Homo sapiens: one gene and its partners. The protein of the gene in region 2 purifies or fractionates together with the protein of the main gene of each other region. This does not show direct contact. Each region holds a gene or a part of one and is shown on either strand. Other genes may lie near its edges. The genes, in order: EHD4, RBSN, AVIL and IFFO1.

Evidence for each region.
Region 1: the proteins of RBSN (region 2) and EHD4 purify together in Homo sapiens (affinity purification with mass spectrometry; 2 studies listed by BioGRID and IntAct, with this or other methods). This does not show direct contact.
Region 3: the proteins of RBSN (region 2) and AVIL purify together in Homo sapiens (affinity purification with mass spectrometry; 2 studies listed by BioGRID and IntAct, with this or other methods). This does not show direct contact.
Region 4: the proteins of RBSN (region 2) and IFFO1 purify together in Homo sapiens (affinity purification with mass spectrometry; 2 studies listed by BioGRID and IntAct, with this or other methods). This does not show direct contact.

What each region holds. Positions count from the first base shown.
Region 1 is NC_000015.10:41,962,029-41,969,871, reverse strand, and holds part of EHD4 (EH domain-containing protein 4), read left to right. Parts: intron 1-3,756; exon of another isoform or gene 3,757-3,884; intron 3,885-7,843. UniProt on the Homo sapiens protein: ATP- and membrane-binding protein that probably controls membrane reorganization/tubulation upon ATP hydrolysis. Plays a role in early endosomal transport.
Region 2 is NC_000003.12:15,069,157-15,075,575, reverse strand, and holds the end of RBSN (rabenosyn-5), read left to right. Parts: intron 1-645; coding exon 646-1,794; 3' UTR 1,795-5,503; downstream 5,504-6,419. UniProt on the Homo sapiens protein: Rab4/Rab5 effector protein acting in early endocytic membrane fusion and membrane trafficking of recycling endosomes. Required for endosome fusion either homotypically or with clathrin coated vesicles.
Region 3 is NC_000012.12:57,808,105-57,815,947, reverse strand, and holds part of AVIL (advillin), read left to right. Parts: exon of another isoform or gene 1-691; intron 692-1,721; coding exon 1,722-1,796; intron 1,797-2,524; coding exon 2,525-2,721; intron 2,722-4,820; coding exon 4,821-4,929; intron 4,930-5,021; coding exon 5,022-5,132; intron 5,133-5,396; coding exon 5,397-5,599; intron 5,600-6,057; coding exon 6,058-6,136; intron 6,137-6,222; exon of another isoform or gene 6,223-6,252; coding exon 6,253-6,351; exon of another isoform or gene 6,352-6,364; coding exon of another isoform or gene 6,365-6,406; intron 6,407-7,399; coding exon 7,400-7,553; intron 7,554-7,653; coding exon 7,654-7,754; intron 7,755-7,843.
Region 4 is NC_000012.12:6,538,488-6,546,330, reverse strand, and holds the end of IFFO1 (non-homologous end joining factor IFFO1), read left to right. Parts: intron 1-4,477; coding exon of another isoform or gene 4,478-4,558; exon of another isoform or gene 4,559-4,681; intron 4,682-4,688; coding exon 4,689-4,819; intron 4,820-5,742; coding exon 5,743-5,848; 3' UTR 5,849-6,792; downstream 6,793-7,843. UniProt on the Homo sapiens protein: Nuclear matrix protein involved in the immobilization of broken DNA ends and the suppression of chromosome translocation during DNA double-strand breaks (DSBs).

The DNA of each region.
Region 1 (7,843 bases), on a different chromosome or scaffold from region 2:
CTGATGACACAGAACCTGTGCTGACATGGTGGGAATCTTCTCTTATTGCTGTTGGCTCTTCTGCCTTTGACTGGCAATAAAGAATTGGCCAGAGAAGGAGGGGAGATGGGCATGGGGGAAAGTGACCATGTCATCTTAGACTCTGTACTAGCCGAGGAAGGATGGATATGGAGCTCACCCAGGCTTGTGTCCAAAACTTGAGGAAAACAGATTTCAAAGATTCCTCCAGAAAATCCCTGGCCCCAGGTGCTGTGAAGGAAGACATTTCCACTGAAAAAGTATGAAGTCCATTTGAAATGAATGCAAACTACACAATTTTTTTTTTTTGAGACAGTTTCGCTGTTGTTGCCCAGGCTGGAGTGCCATGGCATGATCTCGGCTCACCGCAACCTCCCCCTCCCGGGTTCAAGCAATTCTTCTGTCTCAGCCTCCCGAGTAGCTGGGATTACAGGCATGTGCCACCACGCCTGGCTAATTTTGTATTTTTAGTAGAGATGGGGTTTTTCCATGTTGGTCAGGCTGGTCTCAAACTCCCGACCTCAGGTGATTTGCCCGCCTTGGCCTCCCAAAGTGCTGGGATTACAGGCGTGAGCCACCGCGCCCCATCCCAAACTACACATTTTTAAGAGCTCCACTTTCTCCCTTCATATGCTCTGTTCCCTCTCCCCAGAAAACTTATTCTAATGAGGAAAAAAGAGGGAAGTCACTCAAGAAACTATATAGGCTTTAAAAGGGTAGAGAGCAGGGAAATAAGGCAAGAAAAGAAATAAACTCCCAGACTGGAGAGAAAAAAGTAAAACTCTTTGCAGATGACATGATCTTCTATGTAGAGAATCCTAAGAAACCACTTAAAAACTATTAGAACAATGGGGGAAACTATAGTTCAACAAATGGTGCTAGGACAACTGGATAGCCGCATGCAAACGAAATAGAGAATGACTGTTAGTGGGCGTGGAGTTTCTCTTTGATGTGATGAAAATGTTCTGAAATTGGATAATGATATTGGTTGCACAACTTTGTGAATATACTAAAGGAGTGCACCCTGTAAAAGAATAAATTTTCTGGTATATGAATTATATCTCAATAAAAAACCAAAACAATTCAGTCTTTCAACACTAAGCATCATGTGATTTAATTTTCATGATTCTGCAACTAGCGCCAGCCAAGTAATTTCTGCATCTATGTGTAATAATTTAAAATAGAAATGGATGCCAGAAAGAAAACAAAGTAGAAATAAGCTAGAAGAACCCAAGGGCAAAGGAACTAAAGAGTAAAGATGAGGGGCCAGGTGCAGTGGCTCACACCTGTAATCCTAACACTTTGGGAGACTGAGGTAGGTGGATCGTTTGAGCTCAGGAGTTCAAGACCACCCTGGGCAACATAGTGAGACCCCATCTCTACAAAAAAAAAAAAAAAAAGGAGTAAAGATGAGGGAAAAGGGAGTGAAAGTAGCCATCCCACAATCCCTGTATGAGTATTCTTGTCAATGTATAAACATGTTCATTGTTCATAACACTCAAGTTGGTAAAATCAAAGTATGATAAAAATTTTTAATAAAATGCTTGATACCGTAATTGTGTTTAAAAACTTTAGATATTAACATTTAACTATAGTATTTAATAGGGGAAAAAAGGGGCAGGGGTGCATGTGCAAGGGTGCAGACAAGGTTTATGGGCGGTATGAAGGATCAAGAAGCTGGAGTGGGCTGAGAAGGTAAAAGTGCCTTGGACATTAAAAAAGCCTTTTAAGGTATGATTAGAACAAGAACAAGAATCAGGAAGTGATCGGCCCACTCATGGGCTCTTGCTGCAATATTAACAGAAAGCAGAACTACTCAGCTTCCTCCTTTTCCTCAAAGAAAATGCCCCAGAGATGGCAGAAGGGAGCCCAGCTGTGTTCAAGAGGGGATTAAAACCACAGGCTGAGGAGCTCTCCCAGGGCCTGCCACAGGCGAGGTTCAGGAAATCTCTGGCCGGACACATGGATGAAAGAACTTGCATTTCTGCTCAAAGAACTGTATTTGGTGGCTTTTAAGAAATTGTGAAGAATATGAAAAGTATTGGAACACTGGAAGCAGGCAGATGTTCTCATTTTCAAAAAAGCAGGGAAATGGATTCTGAATAGGAACAAAGGCCTGCTTCATTCCCTTGATAAGTTTCTAGACTCAGTAATTAAGGAAAAGGGAAGTGAAGGCATTCACTAATAGGCAGCCTGGTTCATCTATTTTTAAAAAAATAAAATCTCACACAGAAAAACTATGGGTCCTATTTAGTGGTTCTCACACTCATCCAGATACTGGGGCTCCTGAAAATCAATCTTCTGTTCCAAATATTATACCCTTTACAGATCTCTCTAAAATATTGAGATATTTAATTTTTACAGAAAATTAGACTATATTTTCAATATACAATATAAGATCACACCTACAGATGCTAGTGTTCATTTATTCAAATGATCTTGATTTCAGGGTTGGGGCCAGCCATCACAGAAGAGAGTCAACAGGCCACAGCTCTGAGTGACAAGGGCTGTAACACTAGAAACACAGGGTGGCTGGGGGCATAGGAGGGACCCCCTCATTCAGGCTTGCGGGTTGGAAAAGGCTGCCTCCCTGAGAATGCAGCCTAAAAGCTGAGCCCTGAGGAATGAGCAGAGAATTAGCTGCCCAAAGAGGGCCAGGGAGTGAGGGTGGGGAGGTGTCACCCATGAGGCCTCGGTTTCTGGGGTAACTGGGGAGTACAGCTGTTCACTGAGATGGGGATCCAAGAAGAGGAAGGATGGGGCATAATGATAAGTTTAGATTTAGACCTGTCATGTTTGAGTGGACACCAAGGTGGCGATGTCCATGAGGGGTAAGACATGGGTCTGGAGCTCAGGGAGATATCTGGGCTGGTCTGTTGACTTGGGAGTGTCAGCATTTAGTAGCCAGCATCTGGGAAGTAGAAGTCCTTGCACAGGACTCTTAAGTGAGAGGAAGCAGAGCTTGTGGAGACCCTCCGGGGAAAGTACCAAAGAGGTGGGTAATTGCCTGGGAGGGTAGTGGCTCAGTGCTGTCTCAGATCTCTTTAGGTTGCAAGTGACAGAAATCCAACCAAAGCTAGCTTAGATAAAAAGATAAGAACGTTTTCCTGAAACCCATCAGACCAGGATGTGCAAGCTTCAGGCTTGGCCCAGGACTGCAGGAGACACACCAGGACTCTGTTGGCTCTGTGGCCCTCCTCATGTTGTGTTCCTTCTCAGGGGTGGGCAGGCGGCCACCTCCATTTCCAGCCTCGAATTCTGCTGGCTCAGCAGCCCCAGTAAAAGTCTCAGGCTTGAGTCTCATTGGTTTGACCCTGACCATATGCCCATCCCTGAACCAATCCTTAGGGGCAGGGGCATGAAATGTGGGGAGTGGGGAGGTCAGCCCCACCAACCACGTGGCCTGAGAGCTGGGGAAGGCAGCTCCTGAGGATGCTGCTACCAAGAAAAGGGGATACGAGGCAAGTAAAGCAACGATGACCCCCACAAAAGCCAGGGAGAGAGGTGGTGGTCAGTAGTGTCAGATGCTTCCAGGAAAAGGACTGAAACAGAACCAGTAGATTAGCCTTTGGGAGCCAGGTGACCTTGCCAAGAGGTGTGCCTGTGAGTGGTGGTGAAGGAAGCCAGATGGCGCGGGTTGAGGAATGAGTGGGATGTGAGGCGTCAAATTCTCAGCAGCTAGGCCTGGGGGAAGGAGGCCTGGCCACAAGCATCACAGGGGTTTGGGTAAAGACAAGCACAACCTCAGCAGAATGAAAAGTGGACAGAAGGGAAGCCATGGAGAGGGAGCAGCTGGCATCTCAGAAGACAAAGAGGAGGCAAGACTTGGAGCAAAAGTCCTGAAGAGCAGGGCAAGGAGCTGCAGGGTAGGCGGGGCTGGGTGGGGTGGTGGGGGTAGGCAGGAGGTGAGTAGGTGGGGCGGGGGGTGGGCAGGGGAGCGCTGGCAGCTGCAGTCCGAGCAGGGAAGCGCTGCAGGCCAGCAGCTGGGCCAGTTGTCACATCATCCACCTGACAAGCAGCAACAGAGTATTTGGAGAAATGTAGGAGGGGGAAGGCTTTTTCCATCCTGACATTATCTTCCCTAACTCACATTCAGAAGCTGACTTACAAAAGGTGTTCAATGTCCTTTTCAAAACCTCGAACCAGAAGGCCGTGGTTCCTTCTGCACGTGGCTGTGCATCAGAATCACTTGGAGGCCTTTTGACACGGATTCCAGGGCCCCACCTCAGACCTCCTGAGTCGAAATCTCTGTGGGTCAGGCTCCAAAATCTGTTTTTGTTTTTCTAAACCATCTCTCACAGTAATTCTTATGTGCCCTCCCCTAGGAAACATTTGGGAACCATTGCCAGATGAAGGTTCAGTTAATGGAGGAATGGAAGAGGGCTAGCCTCAACCCAGAAAAGGGAGGCTGACTTTGCTGAACCTTCCATCCGTTCCAAACCCCATCTGTTCACATTTCTCTCAGTGACTTAGATGAAGACATAGAATTCATGCTTACAAAACTGAGGATTGTGTAAATATAATTTAATAAATGGGGTTCTTTTTTGCTTAATATGATACGATGAGCATTTTCTTATGTCATTATATAGTCTTCAAAAATAACTTCAATGACTACATCATAATCTATAGTACAGGTTGGACATTTAGGTTGTTTCTGTTTTTATGCTGTTATACATAATGTTGCAATGAACTGAACATTTTTGGCCATAAATCTTTGTATTTCTAGTTTTTTTCTTAGAATAGCCTAAGCATAAATTAGTGCCTCAAAAAATATAGATAATAGGCTGGGCGCAGCAGCTCACACCTGTAATCCCAGCACTTTGGGAGGCCAAGGTGGACAAATCACTTGACTCCAGGAGTTCAAGATCAGCCTGGGCAACATGGTGAGCCCCATCTCTAAAAAAAAATACAAAAATTAGCCGGACATGGTGGTGCATGCCTGTAGTCCCAGTTACCTGGGAGGCTGAGGTGGGAGGATCACTTGAGCCCAGGTGGTCGAGGCTGCAGTAAGCTGAGATTGCACCACTGAACTCCAGTCTGGGCAACTGAGTGAGGCCTTGTCTCAAAATATATATATATATTTTTTTTTTTTTTCAGGCTTATATATATTCCTAAATCTATGTATCTATCTTTCTTTTTTAGGACAGTTATTCCAAATTAGACTCCCACCAGAAATATGAGGATCAGTAATTCACCAAACTGCCAGTAAAACTAATTAAAATTAATTTGATAGGAAAAAAAAGTGTTTTAGATAGGGTCTTGCTCTGTTGCCCAGGCTGGAGTACAGTGATGCCATCATAGCTCACTGCAGCCTCAAACTCCTGGGCTCAAGCAATCCTCCCACCTCAGCCTCTGGAGTAGCTGGGACTACAGGTACATTGCACCACCACACCCAGCCAATTTATTCATTTTTTGTAGAGTTGGGATCTCGCTGTGCTGTCTAGGCTGGTCTCAAACTCCTGAGCTCAAGCGATCCTCACGCCTTGGCCTCCCAAAGTCCAAAGTGCTGGGATTATAGGCGTGAGCCATGGGGCACTCAGCCAGAACAGACTTATTTTAATTTGTTTATTTCTTACTAGTGACGTTGAACTTATAAAATATAGTTGTCTTCCATATTACTTTGTGAATTGTCTGAATTGTCTGTGAACTTTGTCCAATTTTCATTTGAAGTGTTGGTCTTGTCCTTTTTTTTTTTTTTTTTTTTTTTTTGAGATGGAGTCTCACTCTGTCACCCAGGCTGGAGTGCAGTGGCGCGATCTCAGCTCACTGCAAGCTCTGCCTCCCAGGTTCACGCCATTCTCCTGCCTCAGCCTCTGGAGTAGCTGGGACTACAGGCGCCCACCACCACTCCCGGCTAATTTTTTGCATTTTTAGAAGAGACGGGGTTTCACTGTATTAGCCAGGATGGTCTCGATCTCCTGACTTCATGATCCACCTGCCTCGGCCTCCCAAAATGCTGGGATTATAGGCATGAGCCACCGAGCCTGGCCCTGGTCTTGTTCTTATAAATAAATGTAAATGTTTTTCTCAGTAACAGATATCAATCCTTTGTCACAGTTGTAAAAGTGTTTTTCCAGTTTGAAATTTGCCTTGTAATTTTTGTAATAGTTTTTCCATGCAGATATATTTAATATTTGTGATCAAATCTAACAATTTTTCCTTTTTTATAATATCTTTTATTTTTTGGTTAGAAAATCCTTGTTTATCTTAAGACTCAGGAAATGTTCACTCATATTCTTTTTTTTTTTTTTTTTGAAACAGACTCTCACTCTGTCCACCCACACTGGAGTGCAGTAGCACGTTCTCGGCTCACTGCAACCTCCACCTTCCAGTTCAAGCGGTTCTTGTGCCTCAACCTCCCAAGTAGCTGGGATTACAGGCATGGGCCACCATGCCTGGCTAATTTTTGTATTTTTTAGTAGAGACAAGGTTTTGCCATGTTAACCAGGCTGGTCTCGAACACCTGACCTCAAGTGATCTGCCTGTCTCGGCCTCCCAAAGGGCTGGGATTACAGGCGTGAGCCACCGTGCCCTGCCTCTTTTTTTTTTTTTTTTTTAGTATTTATTGATCATTCTTGGGTGTTTCTCCGAGGGGGGGATTTGGCAGGGTCATAGGACAATAGTGGAGGGAAGGTCAGCAGATAAACATGTGAACAAGGGTCTCTGGTTTTCCTAGGCAGAGGACCCTGCGGCCTTCCGCAGTGTTTGTGTCCCTGGGTACTTGAGATTAGGGAGTGGTGATGACTCTTAAGGAGTATGCTGCCTTCAGGCATCTGTTTAACAAAGCACATCTTGCACTGCCCTTAATCCATTTAACCCTGAGTGGACACAGCACATGTTTCAGAGAGCACGGGGTTGGGGGTAAAGTCATAGATTAACAGCATCCCAAGGCAGAAGAATTTTTCTTAGTACAGAACAAAATGCAGTCTCCTATGTCTACTTCTTTCTACACAGACACAGTAACAATCTGATCTCTCTTTCTTTTCCCCACATTTCCCCCTTTTCTATTCGACAAAACCGCCATCCTCATCATGGCCCGTTCTCAATGAGCTGTTGGGTACACCTCCCAGACAGGGTGGCGGCCGGGCAGAGGGGCTCCTCACTTCCCAGACAGGGTGGCTGGGCAGAGGCGCCCCCCACCTCCCAGACGGGGCGGCGGCCGGGTGGGGGCTGCCCCCCGCCTCCCTCCCGGACGGGGCGGCTGGCCGGGCGCTCTTTTTAAAATAGGATTACTTTTTAAATATTTAACTTTTTAACCCACCTGGAAGTAAAATCTGTCTCAATTATATTGTTGTGGGTTTTTTTTTTTTTGTCTTTTGTCATTTTCTAACACTATTATTAAATCTACCTTTTTCTGCTGTCACATGAGGCTTCCTCATACGCTAAGTTATTAAATACTATATTGAGTCTGTTAGGACCTTTGTCTCGTGTTATTCTGTTTGTAAATTCTTATGCCAACACCATACCATCTTAAATATTGTCACTTTGAAATACTTTTTAATAATTTTAGCTCAAGACTCTTCTGCGTGCATTACTCTTTATTTTTCAAATGCTATCAATTCTCATTTTCTGTCATTCTTTGAGAAGAACTTTCTTAGTTAGGTTCTTCAAAACAAACAAAAAAAAATCCCACTGGGATCCATTTGTCCTGGAACTGCATTCTGTCTCTAAGTTACATTTTTGTATTTGCTCTTCCCAAGCAGCAGCTCACCATTGCTTTAACGCAGACCTTCTTGGAAAAGTGATTGATTTACTCATACAGGTCCTATGGAGCTCTTATTAATGTATTAGGTATTTTATGCCCTGTTGCTCTTATGAATGGGCT
Region 2 (6,419 bases):
TCCTCCTGTGGCTCTCAAGCACAGAGGCTGCCATGGGCTCCCAGGTTGTGTGCGGTTGTAGTGAATCAGAACCTCTCTCTCAAATGTGCATATTTCTTCTGTTGTGTTTCAGCCTCACTTTCATCTATGGGAACTAGAATAATTGTTTTTCTCCCCAGGGCCTATTTTTCTTTCAGAGCTTCTGCTGATTCTCTCATGGCTAGAATACCACAGAGATTGACAGTTCTCCCTATGGCAGGAGTTGCAGAGGACCAAGACATTAGGAAGTTCCTTGTAGAACATATCGGTATATGCAATATTAAACAGAAAATTATATGTGTATTTAACGCTGCGTGAGATTCCAGTGTAGATGAGGGGAACAGACCTTAGAGGTTTAAGAAAAGTATACGGCCTGTGAATCTAAGATTGAGAAAATCTGATGCCCTAACTTATTCATTATATTTTATTTTTGAAAATCAGGGTCTCCCTTCCGCCCACATATACACAAAAACATGACTTGATTTTAGCAGTTGGATATCTTTGTCCTGAGGTGAGAAATTGGAGTGTCACTGGCACAGGGATAGAGGGACAACAGAGGGTGGGTGACAGTGTGGGCTGCTGCCAGCATAGTGACTGTTTCTTCTCTCTGCTTTGCTCTCTCCCCAGGCTGCCCTGGAGTCCCAGCGAAGGCTTGAGGAAAGGCAGAGTGGCCTGGCTTCTCGAGCGGCCAACGGGGAGGTGGCATCTCTCCGCAGGGGCCCTGCCCCCTTGAGAAAGGCTGAGGGCTGGCTCCCACTGTCAGGAGGTCAGGGGCAGAGTGAGGACTCAGACCCGCTCCTCCAGCAGATCCACAACATCACATCATTCATCAGGCAGGCCAAGGCCGCGGGCCGCATGGATGAAGTGCGCACTCTGCAGGAGAACCTGCGGCAGCTGCAGGACGAGTATGACCAGCAGCAGACAGAGAAGGCCATCGAGCTGTCCCGGAGGCAGGCTGAGGAGGAGGACCTGCAGCGGGAACAGCTGCAGATGTTGCGTGAACGGGAGTTGGAACGAGAAAGGGAGCAGTTTCGGGTGGCATCCCTGCACACACGGACTCGGTCCCTGGACTTCAGAGAAATCGGCCCTTTTCAGCTGGAGCCCAGCAGAGAGCCTCGCACCCACCTTGCTTATGCTTTGGATCTAGGCTCTTCCCCAGTTCCAAGCAGCACAGCTCCCAAGACCCCTTCACTTAGCTCAACTCAACCCACCAGAGTGTGGTCTGGGCCCCCAGCCGTTGGCCAGGAGCGCTTACCCCAGAGCAGCATGCCACAGCAACATGAGGGGCCCTCCTTAAACCCCTTTGATGAGGAAGACCTCTCCAGCCCCATGGAAGAGGCCACTACTGGTCCTCCTGCTGCAGGGGTTTCCTTAGACCCTTCAGCCCGCATCCTGAAAGAGTACAATCCTTTCGAGGAAGAGGACGAGGAGGAGGAAGCAGTGGCAGGGAATCCATTCATTCAGCCAGACAGCCCAGCTCCTAACCCCTTCAGTGAGGAAGACGAACATCCCCAGCAGAGGCTCTCAAGCCCTCTGGTTCCTGGTAACCCCTTTGAGGAACCCACCTGTATCAACCCCTTTGAGATGGACAGTGACAGTGGGCCAGAGGCTGAGGAGCCCATAGAGGAAGAGCTCCTCCTGCAGCAGATCGATAACATCAAGGCATACATCTTTGATGCCAAGCAGTGCGGCCGCCTGGATGAGGTAGAGGTGCTGACAGAGAATCTGCGGGAGCTGAAGCACACCCTGGCCAAGCAGAAGGGGGGCACTGACTGACCAGCAGTGGAGAGGGCACCTTTGGGCCCAGGGGTCTGGCAGGAGCCAGTGGAGCAGGACAGAGGGCAGGCAGGATGGATGGGGAAGGTGGCAGGGTGAGAACTCAGATGCACACAGGTGAGGGGCAGGAATCTGCTGTTTTGTGTTGCGCACTTTGAGGTATTTCCACTACAGTTGAATAATAAAATAGAAACTAGAACAGGGAGAATCAGCATTCAGTTGCTGCTTTTCCTGTTTATTATTACTATCTTTTGTAATCGGAGGTTTACCCCTTTTGAAGGGACTTTACATTTTTACTACCGAGATATAACTAAATGCAGCTCTGTTGGGCCCAGGGCAGAAATGGCTGCTGTGTACCTCTTGGGTCCATTTGCTACTGCCTAGTCTTGGTTCCTTATGCAGTATTATAGGGCAGCCTTTTTAGAGCCCTTCCTTTAGCCAAGACAGAGAAGATAGATTCCACTGAGCTCTATTCTGCTCTGACAGAAGTCCATCCCTAGTAGGCTGTGAGTTCCATTTCACCTGGGGCCGCCTCTCCCCTGCTCTGCACTTCCTGTCTGTACAATAGAAGGGGGAGGTGCTGCTATGAAGGGGAGAGTTTAGACCCAGGAGAGCCCAGCACCTCTTTTTAAGGTGGGGTGATGGGAATATTTCACCAGGGTCTATTTTCTCAGTTTAAGTTCTTTTTTGTCTCTTTCAGGAAGTTAAGCTCCCAGTGCAGGGTATCAATGTGAATCTGGTCCTGAGCTTTTTAGAAAATAAGAGTGGTGGCCGGGCGCGCTGGCTCACGCCTGTAATCGCAACACTTTGGGAGGCCGAGGCAGGCAGATCACAAGGTCAGGAGATCGAGACCACCCTGGCTAACACAGTGAAATCCCGTCTCTACTAAAAATACAAAAAATTAGCCAGGCGTGGTGGTGGGTGCCTGTAGTCCCAGCTACTTTGGAGGCTGAGGCAGGAGAATGCTGTGAACCCGGGAGGCAGAGCTTGCAGTGAGCCGAGATCGCACCACTGCACTCCAGCCTGGGCAGTGAGAGTGAGACTCCGTCTCAAAAAAAAATAAGAGTGGTTAACTTTTTGGTTGATATTAGTATTATTTGTGAGAAGAGTTTCCCCACCCTTCTTCTGATAGAACAATTGTCTGTCACTGGAGAAATCTCCCTCCAGAGCTTTGGCAAAGTTACTCTGATCTGGGTCTGTTTAAAAGGCCGGGTCTCTAATTTAGGAATCGGTGATTTGGAAGCTTTTGCAGAACATCACCAGAAGAAGGGAAGCTTCCCAGAGTCAGAAGCTAAATTAAAATAATTTCCAAGGCTATTTGATCAGCCTTCTTCCTTTTTGGTTCATTGTGTCCTGACTTGGGGCACTGATGAGATTTTTTATTTTTTTTGAGACAGAGTTTCACTTTGTTGCCCAGGCTGGAGTGTAGTGGCATGATCTCAGCTCACTGCAACCTCCACCTCCCTGGTTCAAGTGATATTTGTGCCTCAGCCCCCTGAATAGCTAGGATTACAGGCGTGGGCCACCACGCCTGGTTAATCTCTGTATTTTTAGTAGAGGTAGAGTTTCACCATTTTGGCCAGGCTGGTTTCGAACTCCTGGCCTCAAGTGATCTGCCACCTTGGCCTCCCAAAGTGCTGGGAATACAGGCGTGAGCCACTGTGCCCGCCCTGATGAGATATTTTATTACCAATGTTAGTATTGAGAAACTGAAATGTTTGAAGAAGCACAACCCAGGATCGTGCTGGTAGCACCACAGTACTTAAACTGTTGGTCAATTAAGGCCAGAAAGGGAAATTGTTAATTTAGCTCTGGTGCTTTGGTTTACAGGAACATAACTCTTAACTGACATCTGACATCATGATAGCCATATGTGCTCAGCTCTGGGTAGAGTTTCTGCAGTTACTCATCTGAACTAATGAACAATAACTGACCACTAGTCACTTTATGCCGTGTAACTAGCTCTAGGCCATACTTTCACTGGTTACTGGTGTGAAAGCTGAAATTCATTTTGTTACATTCTGGTGAAGACCCCTCTTGATAATGGGAATGTTTTAACTCTCTTGATGAAAAAATAATCTGTATTTGTGTTGATGTTCACATTTCTGTAGCACATTTCTTATCCTTTTGGTTGAATGAAAAGATCTTGTATAGGGGTGTGGAGATGGGGAGTGGGTAGAAGTGTGTGAAGGACGCTTTGCATTTGGGATCTGTTCACAAACAGCCATATGAGTGTGTTAATGAATGTCAGCCAGTTACCAACCCTGCTGGTTGTTATGGGTTGTTTTGAGAAGTTGGCAACCAGGCATCTAAGATGTTGCCTGGTACAGGCCTCTTTTCTTCCCTGAGGCCCATGACATTTCTCTGTTACTCTAGAGGGTTTCTCAGATGGCCAGTAGGCTCCTCCCTGCTTAGGGTCTCATTTCTCTGAAAAGAGGATGAACTGAAAAGCAGGTAGTTCCAGAAGCTAATTGCTGCTTTCCATCATAATTATTTTTCTTGTGAGAACATTTCTCTTTTAATTAGCTAGTGATTTTGATTAAGACTAATTCACTAAACATACCCTTCCCTCAAATCACCTCAGGTAGCAATCTGTAAGTAACTAAAAGCATTGAAAAACACACAAGAAACATTTTTAAAAACTATTTTTAAAGGCCTGGCCGGGTGCAGTGGCTCACTCCTGTAATCCCAGCACTTTGGGAGGCCGAGACGGGTGGATCACCTGAGGTCAGGAATTTGAGACTAGCATGGCCAACATGGTGAAACCCCGTGTCTACTAAAAATACAAAAATTAGCTGGGCGTGGTGGCAGACGCCTGTAATCCCAGCTACTCAGGGAGGCTGAGGCACGAGAATCGCTTGAACCTGGGAGGCGGAGGTTGCAGTGAGCCAAGATTGCGCCACTGCACTCCAACCTGGGTGACAAGAGCAAGACTCCGTCTCACAAAAAACAAACAAAACTGACTGATTGAATATACTAAACCAAACTAAAATCATATTCTTTTGATTAAGTTTATCCATGGCTGTATTCTTCTATGAATTCTTCCATTTAATTCTTCCACGATTATCTTCTCCTGTAAATACATCACAGGAGTTAGAATTCTCTACCCATCAGCTGTACCATGTCGCAGAATTCATGCAGGCACAAAGTTGGAGTTACAGAGATGGGTTGACAGCAGGCAAACTTGGCCTATGTATTATAACCACAACTTCAAGTTCTTACCTCATGTGAATATTCACCCTTTCTTTAGTCTTCCAAGGCAAACAGCCCCGTCTCATCACCAGATGAGCAAGGTCTTGATATGGCATAGCAGATCTCCCTAGACACAGATCATGAGAAAAGATGGAAGAGACTTAGGGATTCAGGCATCAGATGAAGTTGGCTTTTCCCTTTTATGCCTTGTTTGTATTTACCCTGTCTAATACACTAAGGATACTTACTCATTGTACTTGCAGCTCAATATGTCTTTGCTGTTCAGATACTAAAATGTACCTCTGAGTCATTGTGAGCTGTGTGGTAGGTTGGACATTGGCATAGTTGGTGATGGGACTCAAAATGAAAAGGTGGTCTCTTTACCAGGTCACAGACTGTAGCAGATTGTGCTTGTTATCTGACAATGACTGTCACTTTGAGGGTCGTTGATTTGCATGCACTACTCTGGGGCCTTGTATTGGAGCCTTTTTTAAAAAAAATAAAATCTGAGATAGAGGTTGGGGGTGTGTGTGTCTGTGTGCACATGTGTTACAAGTGAGAATCATCAGATGACATCCCTTCTCCTTTCTTGATGACAACCATCTGAGTATCAGAATAGTTCCAGCACCTGTGTTGTTTGTCTGGTTAAGGCCTCTGGAAAAAATGAAGGTCACTGGGTTCTGAACAGGGGATAGATACGGGTTCCAGTTCTGCCCTTATTCCCAGTTATTCCTGCAGTGCTGGTTAAATGAACAGTTTTACAGAAGTATAGTGCAGATCCCTTAATGATCCTATCATCCCAGTTTCACACTGGAAGAAACTGAGGCTCAGAGATTGAGGAACCTTGTGACTGCCATCTGTGCCAGTCACCACCTCTGCATGACCACATTTCCCTCCATTAGCACTACCAGCATGCCTGTGAGGTAGTTACTCAGCTGTTCATCTGACCCCAGACGTAGAAAAGTTAAGAGAGATTAGCCTGGCTTAGGCCACACAGCCAGTCAGTGGTGGAATGAGGGTTTAAATCCAGATCTGCCTGACTTAATTTGCCCTCAGTAATAAGTAGCTGGGTCAGGTAGTGGTGTGGTGGTGGTGGGTGCTCAACCATTGTGTCAAGCTCAAAGAGGGCAGAAAAGGGCAATGGGGAATGAGGTTGGGTGCTGCTGAGCTGGTTTCCGATAGTGACTGCCTGAGTCTGTGAAACTGAGACCTCCTTAGGGCCTTAAGAATATATAGATTCTTAAACCAGGAGAGTATAATATCTAGTGCTCACTGTAGGCTAGACTGAGTGCTAAGTATTACGCATGGCTTACCTCAGTCTTCCCAACAACCCATTTACACATGCAGAAATGAGTGAGTGGTGAAGTTAAGCTTGCTTAGGGTTGCACTGCTGGGTTTCCAGCCTAGGTCTGTCTGACTGCAAAACCCAAGCT
Region 3 (7,843 bases), on a different chromosome or scaffold from region 2:
GTGACCACTGGCATCTGGAAGCAGTCTGGCTGCCTGGGGCTGCTAGGCAACAGCCCGCCAGCACCCCTTAGCCTATGGTTTGAGGAGAATGAGAGGCAGCATCAAAGTACCTATTTCCCATCCTTCACCTCTCCTGGGTGCTCAAAGCAGGTGGTTGGCAGGTGGAGGAAATGTTCAGCCCCGAAGAACAGGGCTCCAGACAAAAACAGGCTTGTCCTTTAGCCAGCCACCTGCTCAGTGAGTCTGCACTTGCAGGAAACACCCTGGAAAGACAGGTGGGACCTACTCAGCAGACTCCTGGCAGCTTCCATCAGAGAAATGGAACATGTCTTCCACGGGGCACCCTGGCTCCTACAAAATATGGGGAGAGGTGAGGGGGCACTGCAGAGATGAGGAGCTGTTCAGCCCGTCTCCTCTTGGGCTTGGGACCCTCTGTGCGGCTGTGAGCTCCAGCAATCCATAGCTGGGAACCACCCTGGCCTGGGTAGCTCCACCTGCCAGATACGAGGATTCCCCCCAACCCCTGCCCTGAGCCCAGTCAGTTGCTGCTGCCTAAAACCCAGCGATGATGCCTCACTTCACTATCCTCAACCAGGAGGGGGAGTCAGCTCTCCAGCAAGCCTCGCAGAGATTGTGAGTCCCAGGTCACTTCCACTGTTTGAAGGCTTCCAGTTTCCTTAAAAACTAACAGGTACTGGCGGGGTGCGGTGGCTCACGCCTGTAATCCCAGCACTCTGGGAGGCTGAGGCGGGTGGATCACGAAGTCAGGAGATTGAGACCATCCTGGCTAACACAGTGAAACCCCACCTCTACTAAAAATACAAAAAATTAGCTGGGCATGGTGGCAGGCGCCTATAGTCCCAGCTACTCAGGAGGCTGAGGCAGGAGAATGGCGTGAACCCGGGAGGCGGAGCTTGCAGTGAGCCGAGATCGCGCCACTGCACTCCAGCCTGGGAGACACAGGGAGACTCCCTCTCAAAAAAAACAAAAACAAAAACAAAAAACAAGTACTAAAACACGGTTACCAGATTTGCAGTATATTTAACATTTATCACATTTTACATAGAACACACACAAGTATGGCCGCAAGTTTCCCTCACTTGGGGAGTGTGATGAAAATCTACATCAAGGCTGTGTGAACAGTCCTCCAGGGCCAAGCCATACATGCAGTGATAAATCAGGGCCCTGACCCAGACTCCAAATATAAGACACTTGGCACAGAGCCCTGCTGACCGCTGGCACTCTCCAAATGTTATCCTCCACCTCCCACGGCCCCACAGAATCCAAGTGTTCTTTCTTACATGGGCCTGGGCCAGCACCCAGTGGTCAGCGTTGGGAAGAGCGTTGGAGGTGCTGGCACAACGGCTCAGAGAAGGGTTTGTACTTGGTCGTTTATATCCAGCAAAGGGCTGGAGGTGGTTCACAGGTTTCCCACAATAGTGCGAGATGAGATCGGGTGGGAAGTAGAGTGGAGAATAGGGCAAGGGAAAGCAGGATAGGGACCAAGGTTCAGATCCGGGGTGATGCAAGCAGAGCTCACAGAAGCCAGAGGGATGGCCACGTTAACCCTGTGGCTGGCAGCCTCACATCCTGTAAGGTCATTGAGAACATCTCCCCTCCTTCTCCCCACCACCTGCACCGAATGACAGAGAGGAGAGGGAGGCTCATGGGGAAGGGAGGTGGGAGGGGATGTAGCCTATACCCACCCCTTGTCCTTCCAGAAAATGGAGCTGGCGCTGGTGCCTGTGAGCGCCCACGGCAACTTCTATGAGGGGGACTGCTACGTCATCCTCTCGGTGAGCACCCTCCTCCCCACTCCTGTGAGCCTCTCCCCTGGGGCCAGTTCTTGGGCTGTACTGGGAGATGTGCTGGTGAGGGAAGGTAGTCAGTCCCTGGTATCGGTCTCAATGGTTCCTCAGTGCTATGCAGAGCAGACCTCCAGTCTGACTATCAAAGGCCATCATTAAGCCTGGGTTTTTAATGCTGCATAAGAGGATGGGGGTAGGACCCTCAGTCTGAACCTCAGTGAGCCACCCACAAGCAGCACTTCTCCCGGGCCTAGGCCCCACATTAAAGTGGTGTGGAAGAAGGCCTGATAAATGCAAGGCCTGTCTCTAGCCTCAAAGTGCTATTCTCATGGAGGAGACTCACATGAACGGTGCTGACAGGGTCGTGCAGGTGTACAGATGAGCACTGTGCCAGCTGTGTGAGTGCAAGGGACCAAGGGGACCTGTGAGGTAAGCCTGCAACCCGGCTGGGAAAAGATCCCCGTTGGTATCTATTTATTTGGGGAACAACAAGCTGTCAACTTTCCCCAAATGCGGGGAGGAATTTGGGCTGCCAAAGTTTATGCCATGATCGCAGGTCTGCTCGGGGGCCAGGGCAGCTCCCACATCCACTGCAGGAGAGAGGGCCCTCAGTCTGCCAAGGGCATGCACATGTGCTGCATTCTCCCCATAACAGGGGCCAGCAGCAAAGGGGAGGTGAGCTGGCCTCTGACCTGATCTCTCTGACTACCTCCCAGACCCGGAGAGTGGCCAGTCTCCTATCCCAGGACATCCACTTCTGGATCGGGAAGGACTCCTCCCAGGATGAGCAAAGCTGCGCAGCCATATATACCACACAGCTGGACGACTACCTGGGAGGCAGCCCTGTGCAGCACCGAGAGGTCCAGTACCATGAGTCAGACACTTTCCGTGGCTACTTCAAGCAGGGCATCATGTGAGTAGGGGTGCACAGAGCAAGGACAGAAACAGCAGTTTACAGAGGAGGAAACCCAAAAGGCCAACATGCATTATCAAGAAAGTAATCAGAGAAATGCAAATCAAAACAAAGCTGTCACTTCCACCCACTAGAGCAGCAGATTAAACAGCTGGGAGGTGCCAAGTGTTGGCAAGGCTATGGGGAAATAGGAGCCCTTGTGCCCTGCTGATGGAAGTGTGGACTAGCGCAGCATCCTGGAGAGTAGTCAGTGCCACTTGCAAATCCCACTTCTGCATGTGTAACTCACAGAAATCCTCACGTATCCAGGTCCATAAGGGCACATGGACCAGACTGTTCATAGCAGCCTCATTAATGATGTTAGGAAGCTGCAGGCAACGTAGGTGTCCATCACTCGGAGACTGGACATGCACACCACGGAGTATTATGCAGTAGCCAGAAGCAACAGATTAGATACACACCTAACACAAGGACAGAGCTCACAAACATGGTGCTTAGCACACAAAGTAAGAAACAGACTAAGACATATAACAGAATGCCAATTTCTGTTTTAAAAAGCACACGCATGGCCAGGCATGGTGGCTTACGCCTGTAATCCCAGCACTTTGGGAGGCCGAGGCAGGCGGATCACGAGGTCAGGAGTTCAAGACCAGCCTGATCAACATGGTGAAACCCCGTCTCTACTAATAATACAAAAATTAGCCGGGCATGCTGGTGCACACCTGTAATCCCAGCTACTCGGGAGGCTGAGGCAGGAGAATCATTTGAACCCAGGAGGCGAAGGTTGCACTGAGCTGAGATCATGCCACTGCCCTCCAGCCCCGCAACACAGCAAGACACCATCTCAAACAAAACAAAACAAAACAAAAACATGCACACAAAACAACAGGATGGGTTGGGCGTGGTGGCTCACACCTGTAATCCCAGCACTTTGGGAGGCTGAGGCAAGAGGATAGCTTGAGCCCAAGAGTTCAAGATCAGCCTAGGCAACACAGTAAGACCCTCATCTCCACAAAAAATATTTTGTAAAAAAGCTAGCCAGGCATGGCGGTGCACTCCTATAGTCCTAGCTACTCCATGGGCTGAGGGTATTGAGCCCTCAATTATCGAGCCTGCAGTCCCTGATGAGGATCACTTGAGCCCGGGAGGTCAAGGCTGCAATGAGCCATGATTGCACTATTGAACTCTAGCCTGAGTGACAGAGTGAGACCCTGTCTTTAAAAAAAAAGGTGGGGGACACAGTTTACTAGAATGAAAATAAAAAGGTCAACAGTTAGAATGGAAGCGTATTGGGGAGAGGAATGGGAGTAGGACAGGCAGATAAAGGGAATGCACAGACACATAACACTAGAGAGGGAGCGAAGGCTGATGATAATGTTCCATCAACTGAGAAGTTTAACTCAAAACTTTGCCCCTGATATTAAAACAAAAAGAGGAATTCCAATGAGCTTGAGAATTGTGAGGCTGGGCCAAGATCAGCTTCTTGCAGGTCAGCAGTCTCCACTGACTGAGGCCCTTCTGGGCACAGAGGAGCACACTGAGCCACTGGGGAACCCAAGGACAGAGCCCCTCTGCTCCAGGGCTACCTTCCGCATTCCCTTAAAGTGCAGGACCCCTGGCTCGGAGGCTGGGCTGGGCTGAGTGCAGGGCGGGTGAGCTGATTCCTAGGGTAGGTGGTCTTAAGGCCGTGGAGTCATTAATGCTTCTGCTGCAGCACAACTTGTATCCCTCTCCCAGTAACACACTGGCATTCAGACAGTTCCTGGAACAAAACAAGCCCTCTGTGGTGCAGGGGTCTTTGTCACTGATGTCTCCTGGACACTGTTATAGTGCCTGGAGCACTATTCTTCTGGGTATTGGTTCATTTTCCTTGTAGTATCTCAGTTCAAATGTCATTTCTTCAGAGAAGACTGCCCCAACTCGCTACCAGAAAGTCACTCACCCAGTCTACTTGTGGGGCAGCAGCTGCCACCATCTGTATTTACCTTGCTGATGTACTGTCATCACATGAGTGAGGCTGCATCTGTGTAATTCACCACTGTCTCCCCAGAACCTAGCACATAGCAGGCACTCAAATAACTGAATGGATGTTCCCTTAGCTACAAGCAGGGGGGTGTCGCCTCTGGGATGAAGCACGTGGAGACCAATACCTACGACGTGAAGCGGCTGCTACATGTGAAAGGGAAAAGAAACATCAGGGCTACCGAGGTTAGTCCTGCACACTCTCTGCCCCAGGCCCGGGGCTTCTCCACCTGGCACCTAAGAATTCCTCCTGAACAATGTTTACCTCTCATCGACAGGTGGAAATGAGCTGGGACAGTTTCAACCGAGGTGATGTCTTCTTGCTGGACCTTGGGAAAGTCATCATCCAATGGAATGGCCCAGAGAGCAACAGTGGGGAGCGCCTGAAGGTATGGCTTCCTAGCCTTAGCACTTTCTCAAGTTCCTCTTTCTTCTTCCCTCCATGCTGGCTCTTCCCCAAGAATCAAGGTGGAGCCCTGCCTTTGAGTAGAATCTGTCTTGGAGACAGGCCAAGTGTGTGAGTTTGTGACTCACCCTGGACTCCTCAGCATCCAAGTAACTCCTGTGTCTGGGATCTAGGCTGTTCTCCCCAAAGACATCAGGCAGAAAGGGGTCCCAGAGGAGCTGAGGGCTTCCTTGGGCTTCTTTGACAGGCTATGCTTCTGGCAAAGGATATTCGAGACAGGGAGCGAGGGGGCCGTGCTAAAATAGGAGTGATCGAGGGAGACAAGGAGGCAGCCAGCCCAGAGCTGATGAAGGTCCTTCAGGACACCCTTGGCCGACGCTCCATTATCAAGCCTACAGTCCCTGATGAGATCATAGATCAGAAGCAGAAATCAACTATCATGTTGTATCAGTGAGTAGCTCAACCTGGTTTTAGCTGGAAGCTGGGGTTGGGGGGAAGGTGTCCCCTAGAACACCAGCCACCTCTGCTTGGCTCCTTGTTTTGGGTGTAGCCATCTGGTTTTCTTCTTAGTCCTTTTCAAATGCAGCTCCTAGAAAGCTTGGAGATCCCCCACTCAAGGAGGCAGTTCTTGTTAGCAACTCTCCTGATCTCTTGAGGAGACCTTTCCTTTACTCTAGCCTACACATGCCCAGGGATGTGGAAGGGATAATGTTTGGGAGAGAGATGAACAAAAGTCTCCACCAAAGAAAAGAGTCTGCACATTCCTGTCCTCACTCAAGTCATGGCTGTCTTAGGCAGTCACACTCTACCTAGAAACTCCAAACTAAAACCAAACCAGAACAACATCTAGTTGACTACAAGATGCTTTATAGAGGAAAAGGCACAGGCTAACCTCTCCCCTTCTCCAGTATCTCAGATTCAGCTGGGCAGCTGGCAGTCACAGAGGTAGCAACAAGGCCTCTGGTCCAGGACTTACTGAACCATGATGTAAGTAGAGTTTGGGTGGACTTAGCTTGGGGTAGCCAGACATGCTTCAGAAGCAGACCCTGTGCAAAATCTTCCTTCTGGTCTTGAGCAACCATACCTATCTCTGGCTGCTTTAGGACTGCTACATCCTGGACCAAAGTGGAACCAAAATCTACGTGTGGAAAGGAAAAGGAGCCACAAAGGCTGAAAAACAGGCAGCCATGTCTAAAGCGCTGGTAGGAGCTACAGATGTGCAATACTGTTCAAATAATTCTGCTAAGAGCACTTCAGGTGTGTCACTCCACAGAGCCATGCTAGGTATTTGAGCATATAACATTGTGCTTACGTACATGGACTGCAAAGTCAGGCAGACAAACTGGGATTCAAATCCAGGTTTTGTCTTTTCCAGCTGTGTGCTCTGGGGAAGACATACTTAACACCTGTGGGCCTCAGTTTCCCCATATCTAACATGGGGGTCATACCCATCTCCTAGGGTTATTGTGAGGATTAAATATCATTTGTAAAGCACTCAGGGCCGGGCGCAGTGGCTCACGCCTGTAATCCCAGCACTTTGGGAGGCCGAGGCAGGTGGATCACCTGAGGTAAGGAGTTCAAGACCAGCCTGCCAACATAGTGAAACCCTGTCTCTACTAAAGATACAAAAAAAATTATCCAGGCATGGTGGCGCATGCCGGTAGTCCAGGCTACCTGGCAGGGCACTGAGATAGGAAAATCACTTGAACCCGGGAGGCTGCAGTGAGCCGAGATCACGCCACGGCACTCCAGCCTAGGTGAGAGCGAGACTCTGTCTAAAAAAAAAAAAAGCACTCAGAACAGTTCTTGGCACACAGTACCTGCTGAATAAAAGGTGGCTGTTATTATTGAAGGGGATATCACATATCAAGGTTAATGGCCCTGTCCTCAAGGAGCTTATATTTGTGCAGATCCATGCAGATGAACCAAGCCAGAAGCAATAAATGAGCAAACAAATGTGATGCAAAGTCAGTAAGGACAAAAGTACTGAAAGAACACAGCATAATCATCCTAAAAATTAACAACCATAATCACCGCAAGCCAATAAACAGATCCAAAAATGTTCCACTCAGTCATTTTTTTTTTAGGCAGGTACCTTGGTCCTTAGACAAAAGTGAGTTAGAATTTGACTCTGACTCCCAGAGGGGAGACGCTTATATCATGTGGCTTCATAGAGGTGAATTACCAGACAAGCAAAGAACTCAGTGTATTCCACCACTGACCTGCCTTTGGGAATGGGTGGCTCTGCAGGGCTTCATCAAGATGAAGAGCTACCCCAGCAGCACCAATGTGGAGACCGTCAACGATGGTGCTGAGTCGGCCATGTTCAAGCAGCTGTTCCAGAAGTGGTCAGTAAAGGACCAGACCATGGGCCTGGGGAAAACGTTCAGCATTGGTAAAATTGGTGAGACTGCCCCCAGATCATCCTCTCATTGCTAAGACTCTAGAAAAGCAGGCACAGATGCTTCTTACTCACTCGGCTTTTCCCAACCCTTTCTCCACAGCTAAAGTTTTCCAGGATAAATTTGATGTGACTCTGCTACACACCAAGCCAGAGGTAGCTGCCCAGGAAAGAATGGTCGATGATGGCAACGGAAAAGTTGAGGTAAGCCCAATGATTCAAATGTCAGGGCAGACAGCACTGGCCTTCATGGCTGTCCTGCTGGGGGCAGGGGTGCAGGTGATTCTGTGTCT
Region 4 (7,843 bases), on a different chromosome or scaffold from region 2:
CTCTTCAGGCCCACATGGGAGATTCATACGTAGTCCCCCCTTATCTTCAGGGCATGTGTTCCAAGACCCACAGTGGATGCCTGAAACCAAAGATAGCACTGACCTCCTGATAGCTTGGGTCCAGTTGCTGTCAACTGGAACGTGTTTCTGTTCATGTCTCCCACCCACACATTCAATGCCTTTTCTATCTTAACTAAGCACTTAGCGTGCGCTGTGGCGGTACCTTTTGCAGTTCGAGGTGTGACAGCAAAACTGGCACAAATTTCTTTTTCCTTCTTTACAATTTCACGGATAGAAGATTCATTCTTACTGTAGAGCTTACCAACCTCAGCATCGGATTCTTTTTCTTATTAAGTTGAAAACTTTTACCTTTTCACTTAAAGGGAGCATATTTTGGCTTCTCTTTCACATATCCAAATTGCCAGCATCACTACTCTTGTGCTTTGGGGCCATTATGAAGTAAAAATAAGGGTTCCTTGAACACGGGCACTGCCATACCACGACAGTCAATCTCATCACTGAGATGGCTCCTAAGTAACTAATGGGCAGGCAGTATAGACAGTGTGGATCCTTGGGACAGAGGGAGGGTTCATGTCCTGGTCTGGATAGAGTGAGGTTTTTTTTTTTTTTTCCGAGACGGAGTCTCGCTGTGTCACCCAGGCTGGAGTGCAGTGGCTTGAACTCGGCTCACTGCAAGCTCCACCTCCTGGGTTCACGCCATTCTCCTGCCTCAGCCTCCTGAGTAGCTGGGACTACAGGCGCCCGCCATCACGCCCGGCTAATTTCTTTTGTATTTTTTAGTAGAGATGGGGTTTCACCGTGTTAGCCAGGATGATCTCGATCTCCTGACCTCATGATCCGCCCACCTCGGCCTCCCAAAGTGCTGGGATTATAGGCGTGAGCCACCGCGCCCGGCAGAGAGAGTGAGATTTTATCAGGCCACTCAGAACAGCGTGCAATTTAAAACTTAGGAATTGTTTATTTCTGGAATATTTCATTTAATATTTTCAGATCAAGGTTCACCTTGGGTACCTGAAGCCGTGGAAAGTGAAACCAGTGGATAAGGAGAGAGTGACTTTATTCTTTTCATTTATTTATTTATTTATTTATTTTTTTGAGACGTAGTCTCGCTGTGTCGCCCAGGCTGGAGTGCAGTGGCGCGATCTCAGCTCACTGCAAGCTCCACCTCCCAGGTTCACGCCATTCTCCTGCCTCAGCCTCCAGAGTAGCTGGGACTACAGGCGCCTGCCACTACGCCCGGCTAATTTTTTGTATTTTTTAGTAGAGACGGGGTTTCACCATGTTAGCCAGGATGGTCTCGATCTCCTGACCTCGTGATCCACCCGCCTCGGCCTTCCAAAGTGCTGGGATTACAGGCGTGAGCCACCGCGCCCGGCCTTGACTTTATTCTTATTGCTGTCACATTGGAGGTGTTTGAGAAGGAAGTCGAGAAATTATTTTCCTATATACTCATTCTCCCAACACACATCAAACTGTCCTGCTCCTGCATCAAACCTGGTTTTCTTGGCCAGGTAGATGAGGTTTCCTGGATTTGTGCTGCTAGCTAAAGACATGGCAAGGGAAACCAGTACTCCCCACCCTCCCGTCTACCGCGGCTCACTGTTTCCTCCTCCTGCCTGACCTGATTCTTGTCTCCCTCTTTTGGATGGTGGATTTAAGGTTTGTGTTTTCACTGTGCCTTCAACCAACTAGGGGCCTTTGTGCGGCCATCTTCGTGAGAAGAGATCTCGGGCTGCCATCTCTCCCTAGTCTTCCCTGGACCTCAAGTGCCCAGTGTAAAACATGATCTGAAAGAACGAAAATAATATCTTAAATGGAATCATGCCTTTTAAGCTATTTTTGGCTGGGCGTGGTGGCTCTCGCCTGTAATCCCAGCACTTTGGGAGGCCAACGCGGGCAGATCACTTGAGGTCAGGAGTGTGAGACCAGCCTGGCCACCAACATGTGAAACCCCGTCTCTACTAAAAATACAAAAAGTAGCCAGGCATTGTGGTGGGCACCTGTAATCCCAGCTACTTGGGAGGCTGAGGCAGGAGAATTGCTGGAATCTGGGAGGTGGAGGCTGCAGTGAGCTGAGATTGTGCCACTGCACCACAGCCTGGGTGACAGAGCAAGATTCCATCTCAGGAAAAAAAAAAAAAAAAGTATTTTCAAATCATCTGACTCCTCCTCTCTCCCAGTGCAATGACTTTAGGCAGCAGTCCCCAACCTTTTTGGTACCAGGGACTGGTTTGTGGAAGACAGTTTTTCCACTGACCCGGGGGAAATGATTTTGAGATGATTCAAACATTACATTTATTGTGTACTTTATTACTATTTTTAAAAATTATTATTATTATTTTTAGAGACAGAGTTTTGCTCTTGTTGCCCAGGCTGGAGTGCAATGGCGCAATCTTGGCTCACTGCAGCCTCCGCCTCCCGGGCTCAAGCAATTCTCCTGCCTCAGCCTCCCAAGTAGCTGGGATTACGGGCATGTGCCACCACGCCTGGCTAATTTTGTATTTTTAGTAGAGATGGGGTTTCTCCATGTTGGTCAAGCTGGTCTCGAACTCCCGACCTCAGGTGATCCACCACCTCGGCCTCCCAAAGTGCTGGGATTACAGGCATGAGCCACCGCACCCGGCCTGTGCACTTTATTTCTATTATTATTACATTATAATATATAATGAAATAATTATACATCTCACCATAATGTAGAATCAGTGGGAGCCATGAACTTGTTTTCCGCAACTAGACGGTCCCATCTGGGGGTGATGGGAGATAGTGACAGATCATCAGGCATTAGATTCTCATAAGGAGCACACAGCCTAGATCCCTCGCATGCACAGTTCACGTAAGGTAGGGTTCAGGATCCTGTGAGAATCTAATGCCGCCGCGGATCTGACAGGAGGTGGAGCTCAGGCTGTAATGCCAGTGATGGGGAGCAGCTGTAAATACAGATGAAGCTTCACTCACTTGCCCACTGCTCACCTCCTGCTATTTGGCCTGGTTCCTAACAGGCCACAGACAGGTACTGGTCCGTGGCCTGGGGTTTGGGGACTTCTGCATTAGGGGAACCGTTAGGAGGACTTGCTGACCTCAGGAGTACCCAAGGTGCCTTTATCTTTGTGACCTTTGATCTCTCAGGGTCACTAAGATGGAGCAAGGTAAAGCCAAGGCCCAGAGTGGTGGGCGGGAGGCAGTTCTTCCCCACCGCTCCTCACCTCTCTCTGTCTCCTCCCGTCCCACCCCCAAGTCTGTTCACACAGCGAGCCTGCAGTTTTCAAGGTGGCTTGTCAAGGACATCTCCTGACATGCACGTTCACCTCCTGACCTTGTTCCTGCTGTAAATTTGTGAATTAAGTGGGGACATAGACATATGCAGAGACTACTGGTGGCAGTACTAGCCTTGTATTTCAGTAGAATATATTTGGTTCATTTCCTTCTTCCCAGTCTCCCTGAGTGATGGTTCCAGAACCCAGCTCCCTGCACTCCGGTTCTTCCAAGGTGGAGAAATTGGGGTGTAGGCAGCTGATCTGAACAAGGGCTGGTGGCACTGTATTTTCCCCCTGGGTTGAACAGTCACCGTGTCCTGCTCCTCCCACTACTGTGGGGCCCCAGCTGTGGATCCAAGCCTGCCAGGGAAGCTGTCCCCACTAGGGCTTCTCACCCAGCCAGCCGCCATCTCACCCCAAATGTCACTGTCCTGACCATCTCTGCTGTCTGGCCCTGTAACCTGTTTCCTTCTTTCTCTAAGTTCCCACCCTCTCTGTCCAATCCACATTATGGCAGCTGGTATCCTCCCCGTTCTCTTCACTCAGGCAGTCACGAACGTCATCTCCAGGAAGTTTCATTTTGCTTCCCCTTGCGGCCCCTGCCCTTTGTACCCAAAACAAAGAGAGGCAGTCGACTGTCCCTGGCACTGAGTTTGTGCTGCCTGGGCCCTGCCTCTCCGCCTGCCTCAGAGTGTGGGCTGCAGAATGGGCCCGGGGAGGGAGACCGGATTTCTTTGATTCTGAGCCCCGTGTTTTCCACGTGTGACATTTCTGAAATCAGGACAGGTCTCAGAATCAATGGCACCTCCAATATGGGAGTCTTCCTTTTAGTGTCTGAAAATGGCTTTTAGGTGAGAAAATAAAGTGATAAGGAGAGAATGGTAAGAGGATTGGGCCCCTTTCAGCAGTTAGCCAGGCTTGTATGCCACGGGTCACAGAGAGAGTTAATTCCCTTCGAGGTCTGGGTCTGCCAGGATGAGGAAAACCTGTCGCTAACCCTTACGGGAGCTCACAGTGCAGTGAGGGGACAGCCCAGGACCAGCGCAGTACAGGGGATGAGGGGTGAGCCGGGCCCCATAGGAACCTGTGTGGCCCTGGGAGCCTGTGGATCTGCTCCATCCCGCCCACACTGACTTTCCTCACCACTCTTATCAGTCTTAAAAGAACACAGCCTGCAGCAGTACCTTTGCATTCCTCCATAGGCAAAGATTTCCAGGAAAAGCAGAGGAAACAATGGTGTATTCGCTGCCTTCTGCCTTGGTCTGGTTTATTTTAAAATCTGAGCCTTCAGTAATGGCTGCCTGGGCCCCCGGCCCAGCCACTGCTCTTGGCGTGTTGGCCTCCTGGCGGGGGCAACAGAGGCGCTGTGAACGCCACCTGTTAACCCCGATGGCCCTGCCTGCCCCACCACAGCTGGAGTTGGCCACGGCCAAGAACGACATGAACCGGCACCTGCACGAGTACATGGAGATGTGCAGCATGAAGCGCGGCCTGGACGTGCAGATGGAGACCTGCCGCCGGCTCATCACCCAGTCTGGAGACCGGTAGGCGCCTCCCCTGGGCATGGGGCCTTCCAGGGGGACACAGCGGGGAGAAAGGTTGGAACACAGCCCCAGAGACCCTCAGGCAATGACTGGGTCACATCTTGCTGTGGGGCTGCCCTTTGGGAGTTACCTGGTGGGGCTGGCCCAGACCCACAGCTCTCTCCCTTGGCAGTTGGATGAGCTATGTCCATTCATGACGGGAGGGCTGAAACCTCCCAAGGCCACCAGCTCTGGTGGTTCCCCTGGTTAGAGGCAGTTTAAAAACTGGCAAGGAACAGAAGGGTTGTGGGGGCAGATTTTTATCTAAAGTCAGGGCCATGATTTGTGCATTTGACCCTGTGTAAGTTACACCGCAACAAGAAAGTGAATTTTTAAAAATCACAAAAATACTGCAGATAGACATAAAGCCAAGGCCCTAGAGTCAGGGTGCTGGAGGCTCAGCAGCTTCTCTCCTACTGTGACTTCAGCTATTTCTTTTTTTTTTTTTTTTGGCTCACTACAACCTCCGCCTCCCAGGTTCAAGTGATTATCTTGCCTCAGCCTCCAAGGCGCCCGCCACCACACCTGGCTAATTTTTGCATTTTTAGTAGAGATGGGGTTTCACCATGTTGGCCAGGCTTGCCTTGAACTCCTGACGTCGTGATCCACCCGCCTCTGCCTCCCAAAGTGCTGGAATTACAGGCGTGAGCCATCATGCCTGACCTCAGCCTCTGAGTTCCCAAGACACAGGCGGGGCCCATTTCCCTGTCAGGGTGGGTTTGGAGAGAGTTCAGTCCCTGCCGCTCCCTCGCCATCCCGCGGCCCCGCCCTCGCTTCCGGTACTTCTCACGGGCTGCCAGAGGGTGAGGCAGCAGGAGGAGGAGTGCCGTCCGTCTTCAGGATTCCTGCCTGCCCCAAGGTTGACAACTGGTGTTTTTTTCTAGAAAGTCTCCTGCTTTCACTGCGGTCCCGCTTAGCGACCCGCCGCCGCCGCCAAGCGAGGCTGAGGACTCCGATCGCGATGTCTCATCTGACAGCTCCATGAGATAGAGACCTGCCTCCCCCTTGCACCCGAGGCCCTCGCAGCAGGGAGCTCAGCGAGGCAGAGGGTGGGGCTGCACAGAGGGGAACATCAGCTGCAGCTCTGCACCAGGCCGGTCCCTGGGGACTGGGGCGCTCCTCCCTCAGGCTTTCTCCCTCAGTCTTGGCTTCTCCAGGGCTCTGGGGTGTCTGGAGCTAGGCTTGGCCCTACCATTCTGGGGCCATTTCCACCACAGTTGGGGCTCTCCTGCCTTCACGCGTGGGTGTCTGCTACTTCCCCATCTTTAAAATGCTGCCAGAGCGATTGCGGCCCCTCACCTTGTCCACGTATCAGGAATGTGAATGTGGGACCTTTCCTCCATCCCTGTTGTCCGGAGCCAGCTCACTGTCTTCCACACTGGTGCTAACTGGCCCAGGCACTGGAGTGGAATAGAATGCAGCTGGAGGCTACGCATGGCCTCTGCAGCACACGCAGCTGGAGAGGGCTTCTGTCCCTGTCAGCGGCAGAGGGCGTTGGGGCTGGCCGGGGCACCTTGTCCCTGCTATGGTCCACGTGCTCACGCTGTCCACCTGCCAGGTGGAGTGTATGTGGCTGTGGCCCTCCCTCGTGGAGGTGCCGTGCTTTAAAGAGGCCTTAGTGCCCGGGATGGGCACAGTGTTTTGAAGGGAGGTGGGAGCTCTTGCTCTCCTGGTCACTGCAGAATGACAGAGAAGGTGAAGCTCCATGCATGTGTGCGCGGGTGTATGTGCGCTCAGGGTCTCTGTTTAAGTATCAGCTAAAGATGTGCTTCCTCCGTGTCTGTCATACACTGAGACCAACAGGCTACAGTGTCCCTGATTCTTGGAAAAGCCTGGAGAAGCTGGGGAGATGCGGTTCACAATGCCTCGGTATAGGAGGCTGTGTTGAGCTGACATTCAAATGGATTCTTTAATAATAATGAAACTGGCGAGTATTTATTGTGCACTTTGGTGTCACTGTCTCAAGCACTTCCTAATATTCACTAGTTTGAACTCTGAGGTAGGTACTTTTTTTTTTTTTGAGATGGAGTCTCATACTCTGTTGCCTAGGCTGGAGTGCAGTGGTGTGGTCTCAGCTCACTGCAGCCTCTGCCTCCGGGGTGCAAGCGATTCTCCTGCTTCAGCATGCCTGTAGCTGGGACTATAGGCATGTGCCATGAAGCCTGGCTGATTTTTGTAATTTTAGTAGAGACGGAGTTTCACCATGTTGGCCAGGCTGGTCTCAAACTCCTGACCTCAGGTGATACACCCACCTTGGCCTCCCAAAGTGCTGGGGTTACAGGCGTGCGCGCTCTACCGAGGTATGTACTTTTGTCTCCACTAGGTAAGCACACGTGCAAAGTGAGGCCCGGGAGTAACTGCCCAAAGCAACTGAGCCGTTCAGTGGCAGAGCCAGGGGTCTGGACCTAGGTCCCAGCTACACGCCTTGCCCCTACCCAAGTTCCCCTAAGGACGATGATGGAAATAAGTCACCCTGACACATCTCAGTTCATCTTCCTCAAAACTATGCGAGGTGGGCATTTTTACCGATTTTTAAACATTATATAGTCCTTACCGCCTTGGGCATGGTTTTAGGTACTTGGTTTACCTAGATGAATCCTGCTTGAAGACCTTAGGGGCTGGCCACGATGTCCTCAGATAAGACACGAGGGCACAGAAAGCAATAGAGCACGTGCTCAAGACCTCACAGCTGCGGAGGCCAAGCTGGAATTGCCCGCTGCAGCTCAGCTCCAGGCTGAGCTCCACTAACCAGTCAGCGTCAGAGCCCAGTGCGAGCCCTGACTTCCTCCACCTGTCAGCCTCCCTGGGGCTGCCCACAGAATAGCTTCTTCCATGTTTGGCCAACAGCAGATAGCCTAGGACTGGAGCGAGGAGAGGAAAAGGCCTTGTTCTCTGAAGTAGTGGTGCCAGCTTCCTGTAGCACTCAAGACGTCTGAGCGGGAAGCAAATGGTTCTCGAAGCAAGCAAGGCTGTTTGGAGGCCCTA